2 separate regions of the Homo sapiens genome follow, and region 1 is linked to region 2. The links come from fine-mapping of genetic effects on gene expression. Tissue or cell type: whole blood. Region 2 holds a variant in brackets; the other region holds the start of a gene. All regions are shown on one strand. Distances are between the middles of the regions.

Evidence for each region. PIP is the estimated chance that this variant, and not a neighbour inherited with it, causes the effect.
Region 1: it holds the start of FAM174B, and the variant in region 2 is fine-mapped to the expression of FAM174B in whole blood (TOPMed, PIP above 0.99).

What each region holds. Positions count from the first base shown.
Region 1 is chr15:92,654,749-92,657,248 of GRCh38, reverse strand. FAM174B (family with sequence similarity 174 member B) reads left to right here and starts at 1,474. Exons shown (of 3, transcript NM_207446.3): 1 at 1,474-1,933. The coding sequence starts at 1,590. RefSeq lists silencers at 1,298-1,347, 1,628-1,827, 1,928-1,977, 2,028-2,097.
Region 2 is chr15:92,704,488-92,707,249 of GRCh38, reverse strand. No RefSeq gene overlaps it. Among named protein-coding and RNA genes, the nearest start is that of FAM174B, 50 kb to the right of the region's middle. The variant C/T (reference allele first, on the strand shown) is at 1,649.

The DNA of each region.
Region 1 (2,500 bases), 50 kb after region 2:
TGATCCCTGCTTCCTGATATTCATACTGTTGTGTAATTCCTTCTCCTTGAGTGTGGATAAAACCTGTGACTTGCTTCTAACTGATAGAATATGACAAAGGTGTGAGAATGTCACTTCTGTGATGAGGTTTCATAAGACAGTGACTTCTGTCTTGGTAGGTGACTCTTTCTATTGCTATCTTGACTTGCATACTTTGATGAAGCAAGTTGCTATGTTGGAAGGGCCCCATGCCAAGGAACTGAGGGCAACCTCTGGCCAACTGCCCCAAGGAAACTGAGGCTCCAGTCCAACAGCCAGTGCAGGGCTGAATCTGGCCAAAAAATGCTGATTGAGCTTGGAAGCAGATCCTTCCCCAGTTGAGCCTTCAGAGGAGACCCCAGCCCCAGCTGACACCTTGATTGCACCTTTGGGAGAGGCTCTGAAGCAGAGAACCCAGGTAACCTATGGTCAGTTTCCTGACCCACAGACTGTGAGATACTAAATGCATGTTGTTTTAAGCAGCTAGGTTTTAGGGCAATTTGTTATGCTGCAGTAGACAACTAATACACTGTACTATATTTGTCTCTTTTTCCAGCAGGACCAGAAATGGGCTGTTTAAGGTCCCTGGGACCTTGTCATGTCATGTGTATTTAACTGTTTACCCACCACCGAAAAGCTTCCTGCCAGGACCCATCTGCAGTGTAAAAGGGGAACCCTGAAGCCCTGGGAATGGCTCCTAGTACTTCAGGTAGGGGCTCTGTGTCCCCATCAGTTTCCACCTTTGGGCCTCCCACTAGAACTTCCTTAATTGTCTTTCTCCACCTAAGCATCATTTAGCTTACAAACCAGAGGCAGCAAGCCAATTATTCCCCGGAGAAACTTCAGCCAGGCAGGGGGGCATTAACCACACCAACTGGTGTTCCACAACAAAGGTATGAGAGGCAGAGATTCACATCCCAGTCCGGTTCGTAAGCAGAGGCGCATGAAATAAGAAACCCCTTTTGAGAAAGAGGGAAATTAGGGGAGATACTGAAATTATGCGTTGCATAGGACATCAGGCAACCACTTCACTGTCGGCTTCAGTTTTTGATCTGCAAGATGGGAGTCTACTTCTAGGTCCCATAGTTTTTGATTCTTAGTCTGACACAATGTGGGTTGCTGTGAGCTGGCTCTTTGGGTGCCAAGTCAGCTATCAAATGTGGGTAACAGAATACCTGTCTTCAAAGGGGGTTGTAGAATTAAATGAAATAAATAAAACACGTGAAACGTGTAACACAGGGCCAGCCCAAGTGTCATCGTGGCAGTTGCTGCTTCACCACGGGGTCTCAAGTCCCGAGGAATTGGGGTCGCGGGCGAGCGGAGCGCAGCCGGGACCCAGGCCGGGTGGCCTGCCCCGCCCACGTGGGGCCGCGGCCCGTCGAATGACTCCTTGCAACGTGTTGGTGGTGGCGGCGGCGGTGGCGCGGGCTCTTCCGGGCGCCGCAGCTTCCTGCCAAGCACCGCGCAGCCGCCTCCGCCGCAGGATCCCCCGGTGCAGGCCTCCGTGCTGGTGCGGATCCTGGAGCTCAGCCGCGCGCGCCCTGCCCGATCCTGTGCCGACCCACCGCACTATGCGCGCCGTGCCGCTGCCCGCCCCGCTCCTGCCGCTGCTGCTGCTCGCGCTCCTGGCCGCTCCCGCCGCCCGCGCCAGCAGAGCCGAGTCCGTCTCCGCGCCGTGGCCCGAACCCGAGCGCGAGTCGCGGCCACCGCCCGGCCCGGGGCCCGGGAACACCACCCGGTTTGGGTCTGGGGCGGCGGGCGGCAGCGGCAGCTCCAGCTCCAACAGCAGTGGCGACGCCTTGGTGACCCGCATTTCCATCCTCCTCCGCGACCTACCCACCCTCAAGGCAGCCGTGATCGTGGCGTTCGCCTTTACCACCCTCCTCATCGCCTGCCTGCTGCTGCGCGTCTTCAGGTGGGCCCTCCCGCCCTCTTCCTTCCCCCGCCGGCCGACAGGGCGGCATCGCCAACCTGCTGTCGCCGCGCGCCCGCCCCACCTGCACGCACAGGTGCCCTGGTGCGCCCCAGCCAGCCGTGTGCCTCCTGCCCTGCCCGGGAGAGTGGGTGGGGGGCCGGGGTGTGCTCGTCTGGATTTTCCTGGTACATGTTTTAGGAATTTTCTTTCCTCTCTTTAACTATATATATAAAATAAATATGTGGTTCCCATTTGTTGGCTTTCTGCTAATGCTGAACACTAACAATAGCGCTCTGAATTCTGACAGCGTTTCCCATAATTTATTTTTATAATCATTTCACAGATGAGGAAAACATTTTCAGAGAGGCAAAATGGCTCATCTAAGGTAAACTCAGTGGTGGAGGTAGGACTTGAACCCAGGCCTGTCTAACTTTAATCTCGCTACTCCCTCTCCCTTCTACCATCTGCAGCTCCCTCACGCCCCGCCTACTTTTTCTTCTTCTTCTTCTTCTTCTTTTTTTTTTTTTTGCTACTGAAAGAAGCAGTTTCTAGTGTGGGGGGTAGTAG
Region 2 (2,762 bases):
CAGAGAACATTAAAAGCATTCACAAAAGAGATATCACAGATTTTGTTGGTTGTAAACCTGAAAGACGAATTTTTCTGTTATATTTTATGAGTATGGGTTTTAAAGCCTTCATAATACCTGGCTACGCCTCTCCAGTACCCATGCATTTAAGGTGATGATTTGTGATGTTAAATTCAGCCTGAAGAAGACCTCCATTGTCTCAGGGTGACTCAACATATGCAACTGACAGAGGTAATTACCTTTTTTTTTCCCCATAGATGGCAGATAGAAGATTTTGCTGTTCCCTTTGTGCTTCTGAGCCCACAGATGGGATCCTCTGTGCGCAACTTGCACGGGATCCCAAGCAGATAAGAGGTGCTGTGGTTGCCAACAGCATCTAAAGACCCCAAGAGTTATTAATAGAATAGATACAATTAAGACGTGGATTTTGAAGGCTCAGTATCTGCAAGGGACCTCTGTCGGAGGCAGGGAGGAGGTGGTATCAACAAAACCATAGGTTATTAGAGCTGGGCAAAGCCTTTGAAACCACTTGTCCTTGCAAACCACAGATTGTTAAAGCTGGACAAAACCTTTGGGATCATTTGCCCTGGTCTGTTAGATTTCTAGATTGGCCACCAAGGCCTGATCATGTTTGAGGCTTTATTCAAGGTTATCCAGAGGCCTCTAACACTTAAAAATAATTCTTTAATTTACAAAAGCAAAGTTTCTTTTGTTAAGTAGGGCGATTAAATGAAACACATGCCTCCATTTGTAGCCTAATAATAACCCAGAAGTTTTCTTCTGCCCTAAATTAGGAAACCTCATTAACGAACAGGGCTTTTAAGAAGCCACAAAGCGTGGTCTGCTTTTCCCCTGCTTAGAAGGACAGCAGCAATTACAGCTCGTGGCTCAGACAGTGGTTTTCTGTGTCTTCCCTGTGTTTGTGAGAGATTGAAGTCATTAATGAGACGCTAATGATCCAGCTCGCAAACTTAACTGGAGTTCACTGTGCCTTTCCTGGAACGGGTGAAGAGGCCTCTGCTTTTTGCTTCCTTACCTGTGATGGTGAATTCAGGCCAACCCTGGAGCAAGGAAAGGGCAGATTTTCAAAAGCTGGGCAGACTAAACCTCAATCATCTTGGCAAAACGTTTTCTCCAAGGAATGTGTGCTCAACAATGGGACCAACCCCAGACAATAAACAATGCATTTGCTATCCTTTGGAAACCTGGTTCTCCCTCCATTGGAAAGTTGGTCTTTTTGTTCCTTCTGTCAGAGAATGTGTAACCTGAAAAGGATCTGCTCAGTCACATTCTGTTCACCTGGCTTGGCCTCAGAGTTGGAACATTCTTCCCTTTGTGATTGTGGACATTTGTCTTGAAACAAAGGGCTGACCTTTCTCTTCATGCATGAGCAATGTCTTTTATTTTTGTTTCTTGATAGATGCTGTGCAACATATATAAAGCCTCTAGTATGTGTTCAATTGTGGCACCTTGGCAGGTGCTCAATTGCCTAAGTTTGAGTTCCCCCAGAAGCAAATCCTGTAGGGATTTGAGGAAATGAGACGGGAGGGCAGGCAGCCAGTAAAGGGGTGTTACTGAGCTTGCTCCCACCGTGGGCAGCTGGAGGTTGAGTTCTGCAGGGATGGCGGAATATGCTAGAGAATTGTCC[C/T]ACCCCAGTTGCAAAGGACAAATACTGTATGATTCCACTTACATTGGGATCTGAAGGTAGTAAAATTCATACAGACAAAGTCAAACAGTGGTTGCCCAGGGCTGGTGGGAGAGAAAAATGGGGAGTTATTGTTTAATAGGTATAGAGTTCAGTTTTACAAGATAAAAAGGGCTGGGTATGGTGGCTCACACCTGTGATCCCAGCACTTTGGGAGGCCAAGGCAGGTAGATCACTTGAGGTCAGAGGTTTGAGACCAGCCTGGCCAACATGATGAAACCCTGTCTCTACTAAAAATACAAAAATTAGCCAGGCATGATGGTACAAACCTGTAATTGCAGCTATTCAGGAGACTGAGGCAGGGGAATCGCTTGAATCCAGGAGGTGGAGGTTGCAATGAGCAGAGATCACGCCACTGTACTCTAGCCTGGGCCACAGAGTGAGACACCATCTCAAAACAAACCAAAAGATAAAAAGAGTTCTGGAGATGGATGGTGGTGATGGTAGCACAACACTGCAAATGTATTTAATACTACTGAGGCGTACCCTTAAGAATAGTTAAGATGGTAAATTTTATGTTTTGGGTTTTTTTTTTCAACTACAATTGAAAAAATACAGTTGAAAGAAAAGAAGACACACTGGTCCTGCCCCTCCAGGGCAGGAGGCTTAGAGGAGAGTGGTGTCTCGCAGTTCACCTCGGGCCCCACTGAACATCTATGACACACGTGTTAAGAGATGCTGTTCTAGAATGTGAGAGCCACAGACCTGGCTGAGGTGGTGGCTGCCTTTCCCTGGTGTCTTGCCTCATCGAAGGGGCTCTGTGTCACCACTGCTCCCTCCTTGTTTGTCCTTCCCTCTGTTTTTGGGGTCTTTTTCCTAACCAATAACAACATATATATTTTACATATAATGATACCTATGGCAATTACACATAGGGACATATCTATTATATTAAGTGTAGTAATAACAACTGTCTTAGGCTGGGCTCCCTCAGAAGCTGACCTTGAGTTAGGGTTTGAGTGCTAATAGATGATTTGGGAGGCAGTCTCGGGGAGCATCGATGGGGCAGGAGGGGGAAGGCGAGAATAGGGAAAGGAAGGAAGCCAACAGGGCAGGT